Regions from separate parts of the Homo sapiens genome. Here regions 1, 2, 3 and 5 are each reported to be linked to region 4. The links are microRNA targets in miRTarBase. Many come from high-throughput screens and were not tested one by one. Region 4 holds a microRNA gene; each other region holds the end of a gene's coding sequence.
What was found. Region 4 holds the annotated microRNA hsa-miR-3941 (UUACACACAACUGAGGAUCAUA, at 2,551-2,572, opposite strand). A microRNA usually pairs through its seed, bases 2 to 8, with sites in the 3' UTR of a target mRNA and lowers its output. Matches are read on the target gene's strand: a 7mer-m8 pairs with bases 2 to 8, a 7mer-A1 pairs with bases 2 to 7 and ends in A, and an 8mer does both.

Region 1 (5,107 bases), not on the chromosome of region 4:
GACAGACATTTAACAAGTAAAAATAAGACGGCCTGGGTGCATATCAATCAACCAAATTAAAAACAAACAAAAAAGATAGATAAATGGAGAAAACGATTGGCTTTTTAATACTTATTTTTAAAAAGCCATATTCAATGTAATATTAGAATTATGCTGTCCCAATGCATGGTAGTATCTAATTTTTTTCTTCCTCAACACCAATGAAACAATATCCATGTAAGACTGAAACAGAATGTCCAACCTCCATTAGCAAGTTCCATGTACCACATTAGCCTTGACTGACGTTATTATCTCCACTAATCTCTGAATTAAAGGAAAAGCCTCTAGAATAAAAAGGGACACTTTATACCTTATCTAAACCATGTATCCTATCAAAAGAGAAAATTAACTGGGTCTCTGTCCAAAGTAACTTTATATGATTACATTACACAGAAAAAGAATACGAATGAATAATGACGACTTAAAAAACAAACATACACACACACACACACCCCAGAAAAGGCTTTGTCCATATTCATGACAAATTAATTAAAATAAATATAAATGAAATTAACAATCTGGACAGCAGTTTATGGTTAAGTAGCTAGTAAATATAAATTCAAAGAATTCTGACAAAATCATTATTACCTTTTTCTCAAGTCACATATTTATTTAGGAGGAAAGATGCTTGAAAGCTAGCTATAAGAAAAGGACAACTTTAGACACTGGGTGAATCTTCAGCTTAAAAGGCCCAGTGCTGGATGAATGACTCACAACAGCAATCCACCAAATGCAGAGCTGCTAAGCAGAGGCAGAAGGATGCTGCTCAGAAGCACAGAGGAATTTATCAAGGCTATAAGCTAAACTTGCTGAAAAATGTGAGGCTGATTTTTATATTTTGGTATGTGATGGAAAAATAAACTAATTCAGAAAGAAAAACACATCTTCTTAATGGGTTTTCTACACAAAAACTTACATTTTCATTGCCTGACATTTAGTATACAGAGTAATTTTCCATATCTCACTTAGGATACAAATATTGTCTGACTACTTCTGTTTTAAGAATTATAAGTAGTTCAGATATACTTGAAATATTTTCCAAAATACTTCGAATCTAATAGAAATAGATTATCATCCTCCAGTAACAAAGTCAAAGAAGGCAGAACACTGGTTAAGTTTGTTCACTAATTTCCTAAAAGGTAATCTCTTAAAAAATATACATACAGCCTCACCACTTACTCTTCCAAGTTCCTTAAATATCAACATCTTATGTTAATCTAGATTCTTGGAAAAATTAAAGTTCTTTAGCAAAAAGTCAACATTAAAGTTTTATCCAGTGTTGAAAATGGTGTAAAAAGAGAGTTCACACCAAGGTATAAGTTGGAAGATTAACCAAAAACTTAGGAGTTATAAAATGTTTTTTGCCACTGAATGAAAGAAATAAAGGAAAAAAAGGCAATAATTTATAACTCATTCCACGATTACCTTTCTCTCAAAAGAGGGGGTGGCGGAAGAATTAAACAAGAAAAAGCAAAGTTTTCAATCATACAACTCCACCAAAAGGAAATGAATAAAAAAGCTAGTATTTTAGTTACATCTTTTAACTTTCAAATTATGGAAATTAAAGCATTGGCAAATTTATAAACTAAAGACATTAATGTATGCTGAAGTCTTGTACATAACTGAAAAAAAGCAGAGAATCTAAACGAGTCACTCACTATTCTCTGGGGGGTGAGGGGTGAGGCAGGAACAAGAATTTATGATCAATTTAGTTAACACAAGTATGTTTATTTCCATATAATAATTTAGATCAAATTATTCTTAAGAAATGGATCTTTCTTCAATTATCACCAATTCCCTGATGCAATTACTAGAAAAGTATTATGATTTTTAAAAGATTGTCAGTTTTAGACTCTTAAGAAAAACAACAGGGCTTCTTCTCAGGGTTCCTAATTTATAAATTCACTAAAGAATTATATATGTTAACAAAATTCAACTTGTTTTGAGAAAAATATATGTCAATTGCTACCCAAAATCAAAACCCAACATATATGTTCCATATAAAGTCTAGTCTTGCATTTGAAATCTGACTTTTCAGAGTATGTGATGTGTTTAAAATTTTTTTGGAGGAGGGGCTAGAAATTAAAAAATTCTAGCCCTTCAGATTAAATCATGTAAAGGTCAGATTTTTTTTCTGTGTGGGAAAATGAATTATCTTCCATCTAAGATTGAAAAGGCTCTACTTTTATCTAGGCAATGACCATGAAAAGATCATATTCACTTCAGAAAGGGAAGAAGCAGCAGGGAACATAGTTCCTTTCAGAAGATTTTAAAAATATACGTATACAGAGAAATAGATTATAAATTCAGTTTCAGAAAAAAACCCTCCAAAACCAAAAACAACACTAAACTTTAATGGCATACTGTAGATCTGCCAAAATGAGGCAAATGCAGAACATAATGACGGTATCACAAAAATACATTTTTAAATGGTCAATTTAGAAAGGGTACTTTTGTATAAAGGTTCAGTAAATCATTTGACAAGTATTTTTAAACAGTAAATTTTGTAAAGTGTGAAGTCTATGGAAATGTCAACACAAGGCACATTAGGTTCTGAATGACCACAAAAGTTTAAAATTAGAAAAAGGGAAAATAAATAGGTTTTAAAGTGGAAATGCAGTAAGTTCTGTATGTTCACTATTTACTTTCTTAGTTTTCATTCCTTCTACTGTAATGTTATGCTATAATGTGAGATCTACATCAGAATTGGTAGGAAAAACAGCTTCTCTCTTCTGTCACCTCAACAAAAGATACTTTAAATCTGTACTGTCTAATACAGTAGCCACTAGGTACATGTAGCTATTGAGTACTTGAAATATGGCTAGTGACATATGATGAAATAGTAATACTTTGACTATACTGGGTGAAACAAAATGTATCATTAAAATTAATTTTACCTGTTTCTTTCAATGATTTATTCACAAGGGGTAGAAAGATGGCTGCTCCTAAATGCTCAGAGGAGATGTACAATTTTCTTTGGAGTTTCACACCAAAAGGGAAAATTTTATCAAGGATTTAAAAAATGCTAAGAGTTGCAAATTAAATCTAAATTGAAGTTCCTATATCGCCCAATTGTAAATATGAGTAATATATTTCCCTGAATATGCATTTAAAAAAAATAAAGTTATGAGACAACATATGAATTAAGTCAATTTCACAGTTATAAATATTTCAATTTACAGCTACACACTATAAATTACAGGAAATAAAATTCAAGTAACAGAAAAAGAAGAGGGGAAAAATAAAAAGCAAAATTATTAAAGAGGGATATAATAATAACTGCACCACTTGGATACTTTTATTTGAAAAAAAATTTTACTTGACTAACTGAACTGCATGTGAATAACTTCAAGAGCTAGAAACTCATAAATAAAAGGCAATCGATCCTTTCTTTAAATTCCTGGACATTCATCTTCTTCTTAAAGAAAATTGTTTTCTTCCCAGAAGCACGCCCAGCAGAGCTTGCTCTGGTGGAGAGAAGCAGAGCACATGGGCTCCTCTGAGATGTAGACACAGGAGCTGGCAGTGGTGTTCACAAGACCGATCCGCTGACTATTGGCTCTGGGAAATGTCAATGATGAAGCTACGTATATCTTGAGATTCTATATTCACTTTAAAGAAAATACCCAATGTCCTGGCATGAAGTACACACTACTAACAGAAAAATGAGCAGCACAGTTCCTGCTACCTGTGTTTATAAGGAAAGGGAAGGGGCTAATCCCAAAGGCAATTTAAATAATGGTATTTTATTTTTATATATAAATAAATGTTCTGAGAAATCTCAGACTTTAGTGCATTGCTGTAAAAAATTAGTGCAGTTTTTTTTATTAAAGTTTTTAGCGCTCAAGGAATAAGATAAATCTATGTCTGTTCATAGTCTCTTTCACTGTACATTAAACTTTTATACTGCTATAAGTCAAAAGGAACATTTCTACACTGGTCTGTTCTTAAAAATCAAGGTAAATGAATTTCATGTTCTATGACAAAACATGGCAATTATTTTTGGCAAAGAAATTAGAAAAATATGAGATCATAGTTTAGAAATGAAGAGTTTGTTGATTTAAAGCATAGGCAATGCATAGGAAAAACTTTTTTTAAGGATGTATTTTAACAGAACTTTATCCTTCATGCAAAATGTTTTCTCGGCAGCTAACTTAAAAAAATATTTCAGCTTTATTTGGGGATGGAGACAGTGACAGGAGTCAGGGTGAAGGGCAAAGGAGAGGTGCTTAACCAAGCTCATTCTATTTTCAGTCGCTCCCACATAGGATCAAAGTGATACCTGCAGGCATCTTCTGCTTGTTCCTCTCTTTTTCCAATGCCTTGGAATTGAGAGGGAAAAAGAAATGTCTTTATAATAAACACTGGCTCACACTTCAGCCCCAAGTTCTAGTACCCCAGTTTCAATTACAGTCACATATTTATCATCAATCTGGACCAGAAGCACTGCCTTGTCGATGTGGGATCTGGTACCTGGATCTCTGCTGCAAGGCACCCATCGGTGAATCACCTAATGATTCAGAATAAAACAAGAAGTTAGCACTGGAGACCTGGAATATACTCACAAACTCTTACCCCTACCTAGGATTAGTAGTAGCAATTTTGTCTGAAAATTATACGTTTAAGTATAAATCAGCTAAAACCATGCATCCAAGTGAGGCGGACTTCAAAAAAGGCAGAGCCCCAGACCGCCAGCTTGTAAAAGAACTTACATGGCCTTCCATGCCCTCCTGCGGACTCCAGTCTTTCCAGCTATTTCTCCCAGCTTTTAACCGGATTCCTTCATCAGGCCACTGTAGCTCTTTCCTTTTAGACAGGTTGATCCCTTCCAGAATTTGACTGGGATCCACAATCTACATGGTAAATAAAAACATTTCCAATTCATTTTTTTCTTGATGATGAAAAATTATGTAATCTCAAACAAAATGCTTTTCACAGAGAGGAATTACTTTTTAAATTCCTATAATGGAATAAAAAAAAAATCTTAAGAGCTACATCTTGAATTCTTTTCAGCCCTCTGGTAGACCTCACTGCAATGTCCATGAGACAGTGGCTGAACAAGGAACAT
Region 2 (5,107 bases), not on the chromosome of region 4:
TTCCTCACAACAGAGATACACTAAGTTCAAAAAGTTTTTTACTTAAATCTAAGGATTGGATAGTTGATAGAGTTAGTGTACTTTTGTTATTAAAATATGAGTGGAATGACAAAGTTCAGACATTTGCACACTTTAAGAAATGTTTATGGAACTTTGCTATTCTACATTTTTATTGCATTTTTGCAGTTTATGCCATTTATTGAAAATCACAATTGTAACAATTTTCTTAACTTCTGTACATGAAAAAATAACATTATTTGTTAATAATTTACTTTAAGATATTGAAACCATCTGAAAAGAAAGCTAAATACCAGTATGGTGGACTGAATTCTGGACGTCCTGTCACTCCACCTCGAACAGCTAATCCGCCGAAGAAAAGGTGAAGAAAGGAATTCTGTAAAGAAACCATCAGATTTGTTAAGGACATACTTCATAATATATAAGTGTGCACTGTAAAACCATCCAGCCATTTGACACCCTTTATGATGTCACACCTTTAACTTAAGGAGACGGGTAAAGGATCTTAAATTTTTTTCTAATAGAAAGATGTGCTACACTGTATTGTAATAAGTATACTCTGTTATAGTCAACAAAGTTAAATCCAAATTCAAAATTATCCATTAAAGTTACATCTTCATGTATCACAATTTTTAAAGTTGAAAAGCATCCCAGTTAAACTAGATGTGATAGTTAAACCAGATGAAAGCATGATGATCCATCTGTGTAATGTGGTTTTAGTGTTGCTTGGTTGTTTAATTATTTTGAGCTTGTTTTGTTTTTGTTTGTTTTCACTAGAATAATGGCAAATACTTCTAATTTTTTTCCCTAAACATTTTTAAAAGTGAAATATGGGAAGAGCTTTACAGACATTCACCAACTATTATTTTCCCTTGTTTATCTACTTAGATATCTGTTTAATCTTACTAAGAAAACTTTCGCCTCATTACATTAAAAAGGAATTTTAGAGATTGATTGTTTTAAAAAAAAATACGCACATTGTCCAATCCAGTGATTTTAATCATACAGTTTGACTGGGCAAACTTTACAGCTGATAGTGAATATTTTGCTTTATACAGGAATTGACACTGATTTGGATTTGTGCACTCTAATTTTTAACTTATTGATGCTCTATTGTGCAGTAGCATTTCATTTAAGATAAGGCTCATATAGTATTACCCAACTAGTTGGTAATGTGATTATGTGGTACCTTGGCTTTAGGTTTTCATTCGCACGGAACACCTTTTGGCATGCTTAACTTCCTGGTAACACCTTCACCTGCATTGGTTTTCTTTTTCTTTTTTCTTTCTTTTTTTTTTTTTTTTTTTTTTTGAGTTGTTGTTTGTTTTTAGATCCACAGTACATGAGAATCCTTTTTTGACAAGCCTTGGAAAGCTGACACTGTCTCTTTTTCCTCCCTCTATACGAAGGATGTATTTAAATGAATGCTGGTCAGTGGGACATTTTGTCAACTATGGGTATTGGGTGCTTAACTGTCTAATATTGCCATGTGAATGTTGTATACGATTGTAAGGCTTATGTCACTAAAGATTTTTATTCTGATTTTTTCATAATCAAAGGTCATATGATACTGTATAGACAAGCTTTGTAGTGAAGTATAGTAGCAATAATTTCTGTACCTGATCAAGTTTATTGCAGCCTTTCTTTTCCTATTTCTTTTTTTTAAGGGTTAGTATTAACAAATGGCAATGAGTAGAAAAGTTAACATGAAGATTTTAGAAGGAGAGAACTTACAGGACACAGATTTGTGATTCTTTGACTGTGACACTATTGGATGTGATTCTAAAAGCTTTTATTGAGCATTGTCAAATTTGTAAGCTTCATAGGGATGGACATCATATCTATAATGCCCTTCTATATGTGCTACCATAGATGTGACATTTTTGACCTTAATATCGTCTTTGAAAATGTTAAATTGAGAAACCTGTTAACTTACATTTTATGAATTGGCACATTGTATTACTTACTGCAAGAGATATTTCATTTTCAGCACAGTGCAAAAGTTCTTTAAAATGCATATGTCTTTTTTTCTAATTCCGTTTTGTTTTAAAGCACATTTTAAATGTAGTTTTCTCATTTAGTAAAAGTTGTCTAATTGATATGAAGCCTGACTGATTTTTTTTTTCCTTACAGTGAGACATTTAAGCACACATTTTATTCACATAGATACTATGTCCTTGACATATTGAAATGATTCTTTTCTGAAAGTATTCATGATCTGCATATGATGTATTAGGTTAGGTCACAAAGGTTTTATCTGAGGTGATTTAAATAACTTCCTGATTGGAGTGTGTAAGCTGAGCGATTTCTAATAAAATTTTAGTTGTACACTTTTAGTAGTCATAGTGAAGCAGGTCTAGAAAATAAGCCTTTGGCAGGGAAAAAGGGCAATGTTGATTAATCTCAGTATTAAACCACATTAATCTGTATCCCATTGTCTGGCTTTTGTAAATTCATCCAGGTCAAGACTAAGTATGTTGGTTAATAGGAATCCTTTTTTTTTTTTTTAAAGACTAAATGTGAAAAAATAATCACTACTTAAGCTAATTAATATTGGTCATTAAATTTAAAGGATGGAAATTTATCATGTTTAAAAATTATTCAAGCACTCTTAAAACCACTTAAACAGCCTCCAGTCATAAAAATGTGTTCTTTACAAATATTTGCTTGGCAACACGACTTGAAATAAATAAAACTTTGTTTCTTAGGAGAAAATGATTCTGTAATTCCAGTGTCACTAATTTATATTGTTCTTTCCTCTGATTTTTTTCAGGTTAGTGATTTTTTTGTATACAATTTAATCCAAATGTTATGACATTCAGAAATCATGAAACACAGTAGATATCTGTTATAATGTGGTGTATCACATGGATTATAAAGCAAAGTTATGGTCGATTTCTATTCTTGAAAGAATCAACTACAGTGAATCCTTTGCATTTGAAGCCTTAACATGCATTGCTTTAATTTTGCCCAGGGACAAATTTTAATAATCAGCAAGACTGGTTTGTGCAAAGCGTTGAGTCATCAGGTATTTAGAGCCTAGCCAGCTACCCAGTATCCATGCTGCCATATCCCTTCATTGTAAAAAGTACCTAAACATTCGTGAAATGATTTTTTTTAGCTGAAAAATGCTGGCAAGAAGAATTTTAAAGCTTAAAATAGGTGGTAAATTTGAAGTATGAGTGTGTTCACGAGAAACATAGGCTTTTCAAAAAAATTTTTATTCAAGGCAAAGCAAGGAACATCTTGAGATATGTCTCAAGAATATAAAGATGTATTATTTTAAGCCAAGGAGCTGAAATATATCTCAGTTTATAAATTCAGGTATATTCTTTTTGTCTCCATGGCAACCATAACTTTTGAACCAAAAAAAATTGTTTTTACATCTTTATGCTGAAAATGTGTTTAGATTAGGAATATGGTCGGGCTGAATTTGCTGTTGCTCCCTAACCAAATCCACCTCTTGTTTTCCTTGTGAGTCCATGGCTAAATCAAAGCTGCCCCTGAGAAGAGACTTAATCCAAGCCTGATTGTACTAGTGGCATCACTTAGAAGTAGGCTTTCCCTCTTCCTAGTAGATCTCAATGTTTTATAATTCCTTAAAACAGCTGAAAATTGGGACAACATACTTTACGCAATGAACAGTAGTTAAATAGGAAATAAACTAGTTCCATATAAGTATACACCTAGAGTTTTAATTACCTTTATAATGTTTCTTAAAAGTGAAACTTAGATACAATTGTGATTGGATACTTAGATACTAAGTGAAACTTAGTGTAACAATTTTGATCTGTTAAATTGGATTTTACATGTACATTTGAATGCCAGAATTTCTAAATAAATCCCCTGGTTAGGAAATTTTAAAAGTCAAAGCTTGTTTTCTTCAACCACTACCTTCTACATTGGTTGACTTAGACCGTAAGCTTTTTAAGTTTCTCATTGTAATTTACCTTCTCATGCAGATTGCTGATGTTTTATTAAACCTTATTTTTACAAAAATGACCATAAATCTTTGCTTCTTTCCTCTTAGGGATCTTTGCTAGTTTATGTGATTATGAAATCTTACTTACAACACCACATTGTTTGGGGTATACAGGGTGGAAGATAGCAAGTGAACAGGGGGTGCGGGTGGGGAGGGTTTGTGTGTGTGTGTGTGTGTGTGTGTGTGTGTAAGAGAGAACAAACTAACGGCCTGAGGCTAATAGGTTCAGCATTCCTTTCAGATACTATATGCAAAAAGGTGGGAACCTAAGGTCTGTTCCTGGAGGCTTTTCAGTGAAGCCTGGCATAGGATCGGCAAGTTAAAATATGTATTAATTTTTACAGCTGCCTAATCAGAATGATTCAGCAGATTTACAGGCCAAATTTTTCCTACAAAACCAGTGACATCACAGCTAAACATCTAGAACTTTCATAGATTATTGTACAAATTTATTAAAAGGCACAGTAATTTATGGTCTATCATGTAAACACTGATTCTCGACAAAACCACAAAGGCAAGTAATACAGTGCAACAGAAAAAAGTAGTCCAGAGGAGTTTCTTTTTTTCTTTTTTTCTTTTTTTTTTTTTTGAGAGAGAGTCTTGCTCTTGTCTCCCAGGCTGGAGTGCAATGGCATGATCTTGGCTCACTGCAACCTCCACCTCCCAGGTTCAAGCGATTCTCCAGCCTCAGCCTCCTGAGTAGTTGGGATTACAGGAGCCTGCCACCACACCCAGCTAATTTTTGTATTTTTAGTAGAGACGGGGTTTCACCATGTTGGCCAGGCTGGTCTCTAATTCCTGACCTCATGATCTGCCTGCCTCGGCCTCCCAAAGTGCTGGGATTACAGGCGTGAGCCACCTCTCCCGGCCAAGAGTGTTTTCTTAATGTAACAAGTTTAATCTGAAGTAAGTCTTAAATCTCCTAGTATATTTTTTGGAAAAAAAAAAAGCCAAAGAAACAAAACCAGAGTGTTGAAATGCTACCTCCAATATATGTATAACTCAAACTGATAATTGGCATGGTTTCTGACAGTGCTGCTGTTTACCAGCAGGTTATTGACAGACTGACACCTGTTCCATTCTTGAATAAATATAAACTTTGTCTCT
Region 3 (5,107 bases), not on the chromosome of region 4:
AGCGGCTTTTGAAAAAGAAATATGAAGGCCACTGGTACCCTGAGAAGCCACTGAAAGGCTCTGGCTTCCGCTGTGTTCACATTGGGGAGATGGTGGACCCCGTGGTGGAGCTGGCCGCCAAGCGGAGTGGCCTGGCGGTGGAAGATGTGCGGGCCAATGTGCCTGAGGAGCTGAGTGTCTGGATTGATCCCTTTGAGGTGTCCTACCAGATTGGTGAGAAGGGAGCTGTGAAAGTGCTGTACCTGGATGACAGTGAGGGTTGCGGTGCCCCAGAGCTGGACAAGGAGATCAAGAGCAGCTTCAACCCTGACGCCCAGGTGTTCGTGCCCATTGGCAGCCAGGACAGCTCCCTGTCCAACTCCCCATCGCCATCCTTTGGCCAGTCACCCAGCCCTACCTTCATTCCCCGCTCCGCTCAGCCCATCACCTTCACCACCGCCTCCTTCGCTGCCACCAAATTTGGCTCCACTAAGATGAAGAAGGGGGGCGGGGCAGCAAGTGGTGGGGGTGTAGCCAGCAGTGGGGCGGGTGGCCAGCAGCCACCACAGCAGCCTCGCATGGCCCGCTCACCCACCAACAGCCTGCTGAAGCACAAGAGCCTCTCTCTGTCTATGCATTCACTGAACTTCATCACGGCCAACCCGGCCCCTCAGTCCCAGCTCTCACCCAATGCCAAGGAGTTCGTGTACAACGGTGGTGGCTCACCCAGCCTCTTCTTTGATGCGGCCGATGGCCAGGGCAGCGGCACCCCAGGCCCGTTTGGAGGCAGTGGGGCTGGCACCTGCAACAGCAGCAGCTTTGACATGGCCCAGGTATTTGGAGGTGGTGCCAACAGCCTCTTCCTGGAGAAGACACCCTTTGTGGAAGGCCTCAGCTACAACCTGAACACCATGCAGTATCCCAGCCAGCAGTTCCAGCCCGTGGTGCTGGCCAACTGACCATCTACCTGCCCGTGGGGCCAGGAGCACCCAAGACCACAGAAAAGAGAAAGGAAAGGCCAAAAAAAAGAGGAAAAGAAAAATGTACAAAAAGATTTTCGATCTTCTCACTCTTACTTCTAGAAAAAAGATCCAGCCCAGGCACGGAATGGGAGGGCCCTGCAAAGCACCCAAGTGTGTTTCACTCACCCCTTACCGCTCGCCCACCGGCCTGTGATTTATTTGGTTGGTTTGGGTTTTATATTTCTTTTTCTTTTTTTTTTTTCTTACATGTAGTTTTCTATATAACATCTTTAATGAGTGGCTTCCTGTGCTAAGAATGGTCCAGATGTGAACTGCTGCTCCCTGCTCCTCCCTTCCTCCTTCACACTCCTAGTTTAGGATTGATGTGTCCAAGCTCATAGGGAAGAAAGAGCTGCAGCTGGAGCCTGACCCTCCCTGGAACAGGGAGAGGCTGGCCCGTGTCACTGCCTCTGTCACCCAGCTATCCTCGCACTCAAAGCCATCCAACCTCAGCAGGCCTTCTCGGGCCCTGCCACCTGAATAGGTCTGACCCCAGTCCCCACTCCCTTTCAGGCTGGGCCACAGGGAGTTGCTGGCTGGCCACTTGACACCCTCCCCCTGGAGCTGATGTCTGTGACTACAGGGAGATTAGCACTTCGTCTAGTGAAACTCCTTTCATCTCTGTCCTATGGCCCCACCCCACCATTCCCTCTAGGCCCAGACCATCATCATGGCCCTGGCCATTGATGTGTATGGGCTTTCTTTCCCTCATGCAGCCCCTTCTTCCCCAGGCTGGATGTTGTGGGTAGGGAGGGGTGTGTGTGTGTGTATTTGGTTTGCTGTCCTTTTTTAAAGGATTCCAAGCCATGTGAAACTTCCCTTCTGGATGTGATTCTGGGTCGCAAGTCCTTATTTATATGTGAGGCTGGGGAATGGGCTGGGGGTATTGGCAGTCCTTTTGCAGGGCAGTGTGTGTGGTGGGGTGACACCGCTGTGGCTTAGCCCAAGACACTCCCAGAGGAAAACACTGCAGAAGGAACTGGTTTGCAGACTGTGGAAGGATCTGCAGTTTTGTTTTTGACCAAAAAAATAATAATAAGTTAGCTCTGAAGGGCAGAGGGAATACCCAAGCCCCTGATGCCTATGAGAAGTCCCTGGACTTCAACCCTCCTGTTGTTTGGCCTTAGCCCAGAGGGAGCTGCTCACCTGAGCACCCTTGGGGGTGGGCAGAGAGGCAGGGTGGGATTTTAGAGTTAGTGTCTGTGCGGGGGCAGCCCTGAGCCTGGAGTTGAGACTTTGGGGTCTCTTAGTTTGGAGGTGTTGAGTGCATTTGTGCCCCTGCCTGGTTGAGAGCTTCTTGGTACCTCTTGCCACCCCTTCTCACTGCCCTGACCCAACCCCACTGGACCTTGATGCTGCGAGGAGTGGTGTCCTGACGGACTCAGCACTCCCGCCTGATGTATTGGATCATAGGAGAGCACTTGCTCTCCTGCCTCTGCCAGGAGAGGGCTTGTTCCTCCAACTCTAGGAGGCCAGGCAAGCATGGACAGGAGCCAAGGGAGCAGGGTCATTAACTTTTTCTTCTTTGCAAAGTGGGCACTTGGCATCAGGGTCCCAATCACCAGAAAGCACCAAAGCCCCTGGCACCCCACCCACTCCATCCTACCCAGGGACCCCAAGTAGGCAACTGTTATGGCAGTGGGTCCAGCCCAGGCCAGCACTGCCAGCCTCCTCTCCCTGCAGTAGGCACCAGCTCTACCTCCCCCGGCAGGCAATGTCCTGGCTTCTCAGCCCAGCACCATCTGTTCCCCTAGACTTCTCAGGGGCCAGCCCAGTCTGGGCCACCCTTTGTTTCCCTCATCCTCGGCTCCCACACAGGTGACAGACCCAGCAGATAGCTTCTCTCTGGGAAAGGTTGGATGCTGCCTTACATCCCCTTCTAGCCCTCCTCCCATCCACACACACAGGCACCCACCCACACCAGGTCGGCTTGTTTCTCACATGTAGGGAGAGAGGGGAGACCAACCCCTTTGTGTCTTTTGAAATACGAAGAAAAATGTGTGTTCAGGAGCATGACTCCAGTGCTGCGCTCTTGGGCCCAGTTCAGTCTGTCTTGTCTCAAATCTAGGCATTTTTGCTTCAATTTTATTTTTTTTAAGAATACAAAAACAGAAATCTGCACTAATTTACCTGGTTTCGTAGGAAAACTTTTTTTTATTTTTTACATTTTTTGGTGTCCGTTTGTATTGAATAATTTGCTACATTTGTAAAATGTAAGAGGTATATAATATATGTATATTTCTAACGTAAAAAACATAATTTTTTTCTTTTCAAGATTTTTTCTTAAAAAGATGAGAGAAACATATTTTTTCAGGAAAAACAAACTTTAAAAAAAAAAGAGGAGAAATAAAACCTTTTCTCCCCTTTCCCCATCCTCTATCTATCCCTCTTTCCCAGGAACAAATCAAAAGGTGGATTATCTTCTGAAGAATGGAAACTGTTAGTCCAGAATGATGTGTTTTTCTCAATGCAGTGAGTTATAGATTCTCTAGTTTTCTCCCTAGGGATGGGAAGGGGGCATTGAGGCAAGCCTGGAGAGGAGCCCGGGGAGCAGGGTCATGAACTTTTTTCTTTAGTGAAGGAGGAATACAATCAAGGGTTTTGTATTCAGAATGTTGTGCAATATTTTGGAATGGGACATTGGTGTGTTTAGAGATTTTAGTTTAAAAACAAAACAAAAAGATTGATCAAATCTGTACAGTTTCTATTGTTCCAGATTTTTTTAAGTTTGTATTAAAAGCATGATACATAATAGCCTTCTGCCTGCTCCTGGCTTGCTTGGTTTCTGGGGTCCCTTTTGGGATGGAGAGAATGGGAGTGGCCCAGCCCTTACAGACTCCAAGAAACGATTGGTCCTCCTTACAGTGACAGCCTCGGATGGACATAACTGTCCTGGTGCCCCTTCTTGACCACCTATCCATCCCATCAACACAGGATACATCATTGTGCTTGCTACCGCAGATGCTTTTCTACACTGGAAACAGGTTCCACAAAGTTAGAAACCGCTCCAGTTCCCTTAGCCAGTTGGTGGTGGCAGCAGAGCCTGGAGAACGGGGTACTTCATGGCTCTTTAGGAATTGTCTATTCCTGGGGGGAGGAGAGCGGGGACAGCCTCCAGCCTACTCTAGATCTAGTACTTGATCCTTAGTACTAGATCCTTAGATGTGGGCAAGGATGAGAACAGCTTGCCTAAGCCAGGTTCCATCCAAAAGCCCGGTGCTTGGATTCTCAACCCTTTTCTTGGGCTGGACAATTTCGGAGCTGCCTTAAGAGTGAGACAGCCCAGCCCAGAGAAAGCCACCCTTCTGCCAGTGGCCGATTTCCTTAGGAGCTCTGCTATCTCCCAGTGGCCCGGGCCATATTTTCCCCTTCCCAGGGCCTGTGCCTATCAATGCTGCCCATCTAGGAGAGAAACCTCCCACCTTGGCCTCCCTCTCAAAGTGCTGGGATTATGGACGTGAGCCACCATTCCTCATCCTGTTGAATTTTCACAGGGATTGTTCATCCTCACAGGGATTGTCTCCATTTTGCAGTTAAGAAATAGGCTGGGTGCAGTGGTTCACATCTGTAATCCCAGCACTTTGGGAGGCCGAGGCAGACGGATCACTCGAGGTCAGGAGTTTGAGAACAGCCTGGCCAACATGATGAAACCCCGTCTCTACTAAAAAAAAAAAAAAAACAAAACAAAAAACACAAAAATTATCTGGGTGTGGTGGCGAGCGCCTATAATACCAGCTACTTGGGAGGCTGAGGCACTAGAATCTCTTGAACCCGGGAGGCGGAGGTTGCAGTGAGCTGAGATCGCGCCATTGCACGCCACTTGCTCTGGGTGACAGAGCAAGACTCCGTCTCAAAGAAACAAACAAAAAAGAAATAGGCTCCAACTTAGATTACCCTAGACTCATAAAACTAGTAAATGGTAAAGATTCTGACTCGTGTCTGATTTTTTCATTTATTGATCCAAGTGATACTGGGCAGCGTCAGTTCTTGTCCACTGGAGAATAAATCAGACAGTGTCTGCCTTCCCAGAGTTGACATCTCACATGCATTTGATACAATTATAACTGCTATAGAAGAGTGATACAGGTTAAGGGTGGCAGGGGATG
Region 4 (5,107 bases):
TTATTTTCAGTTCCCAGAACAGTGCACCAGGTTCATGGAGAGCTCAATGAATGTCTGCTGCATGAATGACTCTTCCCGGGAGTATTGGCTTTAAATAAAATCTATGAGACAACCTGCTAACCAAGCACAAGGATAGCCTCCTGAGACAACAAGGCAGGTACTTTCTGAACCAAGTAACTACTACTTCCAGTTGAGGCTCTTAAGCTTTGAGAAAGCCCCATACTAAAATGGCATTTCTTGCTATGCTATGCCATTTTTCATTCATTCAAAGACACTTATTGTCTATCAAGTGCCAGGCCCTGTGATCATAAAAGACTACAAGAGTCTTTACCCTTAAGAAGCTCATTTAATTTAGTTGCAAAGACAAGAATGCACGTGATTGCAAAACTCTGGGAAGAGCATTATGATACAAGTATGCATAGGGTACCACAGGGCATATAAAGAGAAGACACTTAACCCAGAGTCTAAAAGCTTCCCAGAAGAGCTGACTCCTGAGGTGAATCTTAAAATATCCCCTTCCTATACACTAGTGCTCTGCTGGCCAATACAGTGGCCATTGTGTGTAATGATGTAAATATAAATTAATTAAAATGAAATTAAGTCAGTTCCTCAGTCACACTAGCCACATTTCCAGCACTCAACAGCTACATGTAGCTAGTGCCCTTGGACAATACAGATACGGCACATTTCCATTTGTGCAGAAAGTTCTAATGGACAATGCTGTTCTGGTGACTTCATTCAAACAAAGTATAAGTTCCCTTCTCAAAGATCCCATACAAAAAGAAGACGTAGGATAGACATTTATACTACAGAATTGCATTCAATGTCTCCAATAAGCTATTTCAGGACTCAGATCACCCTACAATATTTTAAATAAGGATGCAACTCAAACAAGGCGAAGAGGGAATTTCAATTTCTGATTCTACCTTCAGGGAAGATAAAAACATCTTATGTGAAGTGATTTATGAGTCAATGTGAAATAGGTAAAGAAAATCTCAAGAGAAAGAAATACAGAGGGTTAAATATTGACTTTTACAGACAGAATTCTTTACACCACTTTCCTCACTGTAATGTTACTCTTTTTCCCCTTGTACAATACTTAATACCTATTTTAGTAGATAGGTACTTTGAAACTATGTAAATATCTCATTCCTCATCATATATACAGATATACATTCATTCACCAAAAAGTATTGTTTCTCTGAAAAGACTTGGCTTCTATTATACTTAATATAGTTCCTGATTTTATAAATCACTGTGTATGTGACCATTCTCCCATCTCTGCCACCACCCCTTCCCCATGTGGATGCCCTTCTCTCCCTACTCCACGTGGGGCTAACCCCCCAAGAGGACAGCCCCTTTAGAGGAAATTTATAGACTAGAGGATTCTGAGATCTTCAGATCTTTCAAGGTGGAATGCTGCTTTGAAGATAGGATCTTTTTACTTAAAAATGTATTTAAGAAAAATATCATTAACCAAAAGCATCACAACCAAATAAACTATATTTACCTCTAAAAACTAGACTTATTCTGAAACTACAGAACAGTACAAGAAATTATATATAATCACTACATTGCAACACTTTTCAAACATTCTTATAGCAACATTTATGACGTAACAACATACCAGTTCAGATTTGAAGTAGCCTATTGTGTTTTCATCCAATTGAAAATATCTTCTCTTCCAGTTTTTCATCTACCAGAGATGAACACAGACATAAGACTTGTGTTTCTAAGAATGTCAAATGTTAGTCACCACTTAATTACCCTGATATGAACCCACAATCAGACATGCCAAGCAGTGAAAAATCTCATTACTTCCCTTAGAGATGCGATAAATTAAACCTCATCCCTCTCTAGCTACCCAGGCTTTGAATTCCTAATTCAATTTCTGGTGCCTGGCTTTCATCTTTTATTGTATGATTTTATGTGTTTTTTTTTTTTTTTTTTGAGACAGAGTCTTGCTCTGTCACCCAGGCTGGAGTGCAATGGCGCGATCTCGGCTCACTGCCTCTGCCTTCTGGGTTCAAGCAATTCTCCTGCATCAGCCTCTCGAGTAGCTGGGATTACAGGCTCCCATCACTATGCCCAGCTAATTTTTGTATTTTTAGTAGAGACAGGGTTTCACCATGTTAGTCAGGCTGGTCTCAAACTCCTGACCTCAGGTGATCCGCCCACCTTGGCCTCCCAAAATGCTGGGATTACAGGCGTGAGCCACCATGCCTGGCCTATTTCATATTTTTAATGTTGAAACTTTTTTTTTTTTTAAAAGCACTTCCCCTTCCTCCTACTCCTCGCCCCCGCCAACCCCATGTAAAGAGCAAACACAGGAAATGTTATTAAACCACATCAAGTTTCTCCATCTGTAAAAACATATGAATTCTTCCACAAGTACTTTATACATAGTAGTAAAGCACTAAATATTTAATAAAGTAAACCTATTTTGTACAAATATTTTTTGTCAATAAAATAACAGTTTTTGCAGAAGCACTTAAATATCTCTGACTGGTATTTTGGACTTAAGAGTAAAACAAAAAGGAACCATCAGGCTATGATCCTCAGTTGTGTGTAAAATTAGGGCTTTCAATCTACACACAACTGAGCATCACAGCCTGATGAGAATTCTGACTCTACCTGCAGACATTGTACAGTAAGAAACCCCTGCCCTCACCATCATTTTCCTCAGCCTAAAGCAGGTCAAACAGGTGAAAGGACATTCCCCTGGCTGCCCTAAAAAAATTAAGAGTTGCCAAAAAGTGATGAGAAGTCAAACAGAACCACCAAAATAATTTTAAGTATTTCTTTACTCACAGACTTAAAAAACATTTTCAAACTTTAAAGTTAATTTTCTCATGAAATTCTAAAGATTTAGTTCACATAGAAAGAATGGCTTAGATACTAAGGTATGTTGCAACCTTAGAAATATTGGTAAATTTACTTGCTCTTGCAAAAAATTCATCATGGAACTGATTATATGGGAATACCTGGGCTAACCCATAACAGCTTTTACTAAGTACCAGGTGCTGTGCAAAGGGAAACACACCTTTCTTATTTACATCTCTTAAAAAACAAAAACAAAACAAAACAAAACCCTAGATGGTAGGTTTTATATGATATTCCTTAAGACAGAAACTGAGGGCCTGAGAGGTTAAGTAAGTAGCCCAAGGTCAGAGAGCTTACCACGGAGGTCAGGCCAATGCCTAAACAAGGAAGAGACCTCCTAGGCACCACTCCTTCTCCTGCCGCTGGCCTGCCATCTCCCCACAACAGCTCTCTTTCCCTGACCCACTCCTGAGTATGAGTAAAGATGAATAGAAACACTTTCTAAAACATTAAACTGTTAGGAAAGCTCATTTAAACTGAAAGTCAGTGGTAATGGGCATTAACTTTCCTGGCCCCCTGCAAACCAAGCAAATAACAGCATTGAATTATAAACAGAGAATATCCCCTATTTTATCTCCTGACTCTCCTCAGCATGCCGGTCTCTCACTTTGGGTCTTTCATAAAATAAAGCAAACAATTTCCATGTTAATTTGAGTTTGCTAGAACGTAATCCTTTTTCATTATTTCATGTATTTTGTTAAGCTACTCACCACTGCTCCTTGTTTTACACAATATCCAGCTTTGATAACCGCACTATCTTGAGGTGGTTTAGGAGTAAAGTAAGGAAGATGGCTTTGTGACCGTTTCAGATTATTTCTGTCAATACTTTCACCACATTCATTTACTTCTTCTTTCTAAAATGAAGCAAAATAAATAAATTATTTTCTTGCTTGTTTAGCATACTTTTATTTCATATTATCCCAGTAGAAAATCTTAAAATCCACCTTAGATTAGTCAGAAACAGATTTTTGAAGAGTTTTCTAATTAATCTGAGATACTTACTCTTAATTTTCCTGTCACTGATTAAAGCACAAATTTCCATTCCTCTTGTTTTGCACAAGTCCTGCCACCAGTGCTCTTTTTTGGGGAAGGAGTTAACTTTTTATTTTGAAATAATTATAAGGATTCACCAGAAGCTGCCCAAAAAAAGTACAACAGGTCCTATGTACCCTTTCACTAGTTTCCCCTCAAAGGGAAACGGCGTAACATTATCAAAAAACAAGAAATGGACATTGGCACAACCCACAAACTTTATTCGGATTCCACCAGTTTTACATACATTCATCTATGTGTGTCTATACAGTTCTATGCAGTTTTATCACATGTGTAGATCTGTGTAACTACTACCACATTTAAGACCCAGAATTGGTCATCACCCCAAGGCTCCTTTGTGAACTTTAGAGTTCCTACCCCTAAATCCCCTGGCAGCCACTAATCTGTTCTCCAAGACTATAATTTTGACATTTTGAAAATGTAATGTAAATGGAAGCATACAGAAGGTTATCTTTTGAGATTATCTTTTTTCACTCAGCATAATTCTCTAGAGATTCGTCCAGACTGTTCCTTGTATCTAGAGTTCATTCCTTTTTATTGCTATATTTCCATGGTATGGATGGATGACCAGTTGTTTAACTGTTCACCCATTAAAGGACATTTGAGTTGTTTCCCACTTTTAGCTATTAGGAAAAAAGCTGCTATCAACATTCATGCACAAGTTTTTATGTGAATGTAATTTTCCCTTTCTCTACGATAAACACCTAGTCCTGCAAATGCTGGGTTGTACAGTAATCACAAGCTTACTTTTATTATTAAAAAAAAAACAAAACATAAACACTAAACTGTTTTTCAGAGTGGCTAATTTTCATTCCCACCAGCAACACCTGAGAGATTATGTTTCTCCTCAACCTTGGCAGCATTTGTGTCGTCACTTTTATTTCAGCCATTCTGAGAGGTGTGCAGTGATCTTTTATTGTGCTCTTAATTTGTATTTTTTCCCTGCTAGCTAATGATGGTGAACATCTTTTCATGTGCTTACTTACCATCTGTTTATCTTTTATCTTTTGATGAAATATCTGTTCATGAATTTTCTAATTGGATTTCTTGGGCTTTTTACTGTTGGGTTCTGAGTTCTTTCTATGTTCTAGATAAAAGTCCTTTGTTGGACATGTGGTTTGCAAATATTTTCTCCCAGTTTGTAGCTTTTCTTTTCATCCTCTTAAGAAGG
Region 5 (5,107 bases), not on the chromosome of region 4:
CATGGGACTGAGACCTGATGGCCTTGCTGCAAACCTTGGGACCTTCAACTGTGGCCCTGAGAAGCCCACAGTCCATCAGACAGAAGTTATTGGATCAGAACTTTAGGCGGTGGTGGGGAGCCCTGGGAAAGCTGAGAGGGGATACAGTTGGCAGGGCCTACCCCAATATCCAGAGGGCCTCGTGCCTGCAGAATACTAGCTGTATTGCTGGGGTGTGGGAAGGCTAGTCCTTCCCTTGTTCTGGGTGAGAGAGCTAGGCCAGAGAGTCTACCCCTCCCAGCTCACTCTTGGCAGGCAGCTCTGCCTTCCCAGGATTCTTTCTGGCCCTGCATTTGCCAAGTGGAGCCTGGGATAGCGGAATTTATTCACCTGGCTTCTCTGTAGGATGGGACCCATCTGAAAGGTCTGTCCCCTGCCTTCACAGCAAAGCCAGGCAAAGGGTCCTCTGTTAGTGAGATAGCAGGTGCAGGTCTGGGGAGTTTGCCAGGTGACTTTACCAGAGTTCCTCAGCTATGCAAGCTCTGGCCATCTGGCATCACCTGTTACTGAAATTCTCTGAGATTACTGTTGCTTTTTCTTTCTGTTACGGGGCTCTGGGGCCTTTGCTCCAGGTTTCCTGAGTCTGCCGTGAAGGTTCTCGCATCAGGGTGTCTACAGAACATGCTGCTGAAGTCGCTGCAGATGGACCCAGTGTTCTGGGAAAGCCAAGGCGGAGCCCAGGGGCTGAAGCAGGTCCTCCAGACCCTGGAGCAGCGAGGACAGGTGCTGCTGGGACACATCCAAAAGCACAACCTCACACTCTTCAGGGACGAGGACCCATAAGCCGCACACAGCCCTGAGTCAATGAGCATCCATCCTGATGGCCACATTTTCTTGGGCTCACTCATCTTGAGGACAAATGGGAAAAGCCAGAAGCCAGAGGGGCACAAGGATGTCACGGGATATTTCACCTGCCTGGGATGGTGGAGGTAGTATGGGGTTTTCAATCTCAAAGCGTCCCTTTCTGCCTTCTCGGCTCTGGCTATTTATTCCCTTGCACCAACAAATACATTCGAAAATGTTCTGTGAGCTGCTCAAGAAACTGTAAAAATGTGTGATGCACGTGCATATGCAGAGTGGGAGAACTTTGTGTGTGTGTAGAGGTGTGTAGGTGTGGGTGGCATGTGTGCCCGCCTGCATGCAATACCTGAGACCAACCTAATAAAGGTACAATCTTCATAGAACTGCACTTGCAGCCTGGAGTTGCTCTGGCTGAAAGTAGACTCAGGCTTAAGAAATGAAACATAATGCGTTTGTCTTTATAGACTTTAAATTTTCAATTATTACTCAGTTATGTTTTTGGTTTAAAAAATTATAAAAGTCTAAAAGTAATACATGCTCAGTAAAAACAAGTCCATAAAAAATAGAAGCATATGACAAAAAGCATAAGTCCCACAAACTCCCTAGCGGTGTGTATGTGTGTGTGTGTTATTCATGGTCACACTACATGCAAATTAAAAAATGAAAGTGTGGTCATGCTTTGTCAACTCACTATATTTTTACTTTATTAACTATATTCTGTATCAGCCATCTGAATTGACCCAATCTTTATTGGTGACTGCATGAAATTCCAAGGCAGGGATGTGTCATATTTTCTTTAGCTGGTCCCATAATCATGAACATTTAAGTAGCTCCAATTTTTCATCAATTACAGACATTGCCGCCATGAACATGATTGCATGGCGTGCAAGTATTTCTGCGAGGTAGATTTCCGTACGGGATTTCTGGGGCAAAGGGTATGGGCATTCAGTATTCTGAGAGAAACTGCCAAATTGCTCTCTGAAATGGTGGTGTCAATTTACATTTCTCCCAAGAGGGTAGGAGACTGATTATTTTTCTACACCTTCACCAACACTTGGCATTCTCAGACTTTTGGGTTTTTTTTGGCCTATTTAGGAGGAAAACCGATTTTAAAAGCTGCATTTCCTTAATCATGAATGAAGTCATCTTTCCACTTATTTGCCAGACATTTGTATTTTCTTTTCTGCATTGTCTTTTTGTTTTAAGATGTTTGCCCTTTGCTTGTTAATTTGTTGGAAATCTTTGACTCTAATAAGTGTGATCAATCTTTTCTCTGCTGACTTGGTATAAATGTTTTCTTCCAGCCTCTAATTTGTCTCTTAACTTTGTTTATAGTCTTTTGCCAAGTGTAAAATGTTAATTTCCACGTAGTCAAATTTGTTTATCCTTCCCTTTAAGTCTTTTGAGTTTCATGCCTTCTTAGAAAGGCTGTCACCACTTCAAGATTATTGAAATAATCTGTGTTTTATTCTAGTATTATACAGTATTTCTTATATATTATATAGTATTTCTTATATATTTTCATATATTTCATATATATTCCCTCTAAATTAATATATAAAACCTATATTTTATATGGATTTAAGCAGAGAATGGTGTGAGTTAGGGATCTAACAAGTTTCATTTCCCTTCAAATGGATAGTTAGTTGCTGTAACATTATTTCATAGTCCATTCTTTCTTTACTGCTGTGAAAGTATACTTTTATCAGATATTAGGTTCCCACATGCACAGAGGTCCATTTGTGAACTCTGTTCTGATATTATTTTTCAGTTCCTGCATTAGTATGACAGTGTTTTAATTAAAGTTACTTTATTCTTTTTTGCTGTCTGGTAGGCTGAGTTCCCATATTTTTATTCTACTTTAGTTTTTTCCTTTGCTATTTTTGTGCATTTGTCTTTCATGTGATAATGTCAGTCTATGAAGCATGCCACCCCTCTCCTTTTATCCTCAAAATCCCATTGGTGTTTTGATTGTGATTATATAGAATTTATAATTAGTGGGAATCTGACTTATTTGAATATTGAGTGCTCTCATTCAGGTTTATCAATCCACCTATTCTTTGATAATCTCTAGCAACATTTTTTTGTTTATTGAGACAGGGTCTCACTCTGTCACCCAGGCTGGAGTACAGTGGCAAGATCTCAGCTCACTGCAGCCTCAACCTCCTGGGCTCAAGTGATCCTCTCACCTCAGCCTCCTGAGTAGCTGGGACGGCAAGTGCACACCACCGCGACCAGCTAATTTTTGTATTGTTTTGTAGAGATGGGATTTTGCCATATTGCCCAGGCTGGTCTTGAATTCTTGAGCTCAAAGCATCTGCCCATCCCAGCCTCCAAAGTGCTGGGATTACAGGCATGAGCCACCGAACCCGGCCTCTAGTAACATTTTAATGTTTTCTTCAGCAAATAAGCTCATTTTAAAGATAGTTTGCAATTTCTACTCCTATTGAGAATGAGTTCTTTTTCTTGATTAGATTTTTCTAGATAGAATTTTAGGTGCATATCTTATAGTTTTTAAGTAGAAAATAATATTTTCAAATAATGATAATTTTACATTTATATTTCATAAGTGTGTGTGTGTTCTCCTCTCATTTATTTCTATTGTCTTATTACTTAGGTTGGGAGCTTTCTGGAGGAAAATTGAGTAATAATAGCAACAATAGTAGGCATCCACATCTTATTCTGGACTTTAATGGGAACACCTCTGTGGTTTCTATTATGTTTTGTCAGGTTTAAAGAAATCATTTCTGATAAATATCTTTCATTAAGTTAAGGAAGTTTCTTTTTATTCTTAGCTTACTAAAACCATTTTTCAAAAATCAAGAATGGGGATTGAATTTTATTAAATGCTCTTTTCAATATCTATTGAGCATATAGTTTTTCTCCTTTATTTTCTAATGCTGAATAATCTTTACATTCTCAGAAAAAACCTATTAGGCTGAGGTATGTTAGTATTTTGGGAACTGCAGAATTTAACTTGCCAATATTTTACTTAGAATCTTTGCATATACATTCATAAGGTTTTCCTTTTTGGGCACTCCATGGCTGTCTTACTATTAAATTTAAACATACCTCATAAAATAAATTCAGAATTTTATTTTATCTTTTTAATGCTTTGTAAGAGTTTAAATAAGAACCATTTATTCCTCAAAAGTTTTATAGCACTCTCCCATAAAACCATCTGGGCCCTGTGCCTTTTGCTAGATCTTTTACAACCTAATGTAGGAGATAGGTAACAGGGGCCTGCAATAAACCAACATGCCTGGCATATTCAGTGGGCGTGGAAATGTAGAAGTGTCCTGGGCAAGACTCAGGCCCTTGGAAAAGGGAGTTTGGATTTAGAGATTTCAGGCATTTCTCTTAAGGTCACCAATGTTTATTTGACTTTGACTTTTTGTCTTTTCTCCTCTCTTCTTCCTGTGTTCTCAGTTCTTTCCAAGGATACCCTTATCAAGTGATGCTGTTCCTCTAGGCCTCAGCCAGTTTCTGTTTAACAGTCTCTGCTTTGCCTTCTGCCTGGTAGACCTACACTCAGCCAGAGGTGGGAGTGAGACACTTGTCATCCTAGAAAATGGCAAGAAGAAAGGAATACAAAGAAACATTTCATTGCAAAACATAATGTGGAGCTCTCACATTAGGATGAGGCTCATTCTACTTTGTGACTTAACCAGCCGCTTTGAAATAAAACAGATCTAATCCTGTCTCACCACCGAGAGACTGACATGCAAGTGGACAATGCCCAAACTACATATAATAATAAAACTCTATCCACCACCTCTGTAGCAACCAGCTCAGAGAACCAACCACAATGTCTGTAGCATCTGCTCAGTAGGGTGAAGACCTAGTCAGTGACTGCCAGCTTCCTTATTTTTGTCCCTACTTCCAACTCAGGATCAATCAGAGAAAGCCAAATATGCTCCCCTAACCAATCAGTTAGGATGCCCCACCTCTAGTTTGCCCATCTCCAGTGTCTCTCATGCCAGCAGCCTCCAATCAGGGTGCACCTGGAGCCTTCCCTTTCTTTCTCACTATAAAGCTTTCCCAGTCCCTGCCTGTCTTGGAGTCCCTGCCAAATGCAAGTGATGGTGCTGACCCCCTTGCCGTAGCAAGCCTCTGTCTGTTCTCCCTTGGGTGGTCTTTGTTGATTTCCATACTGCCTGGCTGTAAGAATTAAACAAAGTTAACTAGTAATCCAGGTGAAGGCACTGGCCCGGCAGCTGGAAGGGTAGGCAAACTGAGCCACATTCTGAGAGCAGGTTTCCTTTAC

Region 1: miRTarBase lists PCNX1 as a target of hsa-miR-3941. Seed matches in the 3' UTR shown: 7mer-m8 at 3,685-3,691, 7mer-m8 at 3,223-3,229, 7mer-m8 at 475-481 and 7mer-A1 at 425-431.
Region 2: miRTarBase lists PPP1CB as a target of hsa-miR-3941. Seed matches in the 3' UTR shown: 7mer-A1 at 721-727 and 8mer at 2,307-2,314.
Region 3: miRTarBase lists TOB2 as a target of hsa-miR-3941. Seed matches in the 3' UTR shown: 7mer-m8 at 1,765-1,771.
Region 5: miRTarBase lists GASK1A as a target of hsa-miR-3941. Seed matches in the 3' UTR shown: 7mer-m8 at 1,133-1,139, 7mer-m8 at 1,143-1,149 and 7mer-m8 at 1,449-1,455.

The regions. Positions count from the first base shown.
Region 1 is chr14:71,109,237-71,114,343 of GRCh38, reverse strand. PCNX1 (pecanex 1) reads right to left here. Exons shown (of 36, transcript NM_014982.3): 35 at 4,752-4,892; 36 at 1-4,549. The coding sequence ends at 4,409. Among named protein-coding and RNA genes, the nearest start is that of PCNX1, 200 kb to the right of the region's middle.
Region 2 is chr2:28,798,921-28,804,027 of GRCh38, forward strand. PPP1CB (protein phosphatase 1 catalytic subunit beta) reads left to right here. Exons shown (of 8, transcript NM_002709.3): 8 at 279-4,020. The coding sequence ends at 383. Among named protein-coding and RNA genes, the nearest start is that of SPDYA, 9.4 kb to the right of the region's middle.
Region 3 is chr22:41,432,142-41,437,248 of GRCh38, reverse strand. It overlaps TOB2 (transducer of ERBB2, 2), which reads left to right. Exons shown (of 2, transcript NM_016272.4): 2 at 1-3,755. The coding sequence ends at 938. Among named protein-coding and RNA genes, the nearest start is that of TOB2, 12 kb to the left of the region's middle. RefSeq lists an enhancer at 1-353.
Region 4 is chr10:122,414,489-122,419,595 of GRCh38, reverse strand. It overlaps MIR3941 (microRNA 3941), which reads right to left and starts at 2,631; the gene lies at 2,529-2,631. PLEKHA1 (pleckstrin homology domain containing A1) reads right to left here. Exons shown (of 12, transcript NM_001001974.4): 7 at 3,594-3,737; 8 at 1,628-1,696.
Region 5 is chr3:43,055,565-43,060,671 of GRCh38, forward strand. It overlaps GASK1A (golgi associated kinase 1A), which reads left to right. Exons shown (of 5, transcript NM_001129908.3): 5 at 612-2,151. The coding sequence ends at 822. Among named protein-coding and RNA genes, the nearest start is that of POMGNT2-AS1, 28 kb to the right of the region's middle.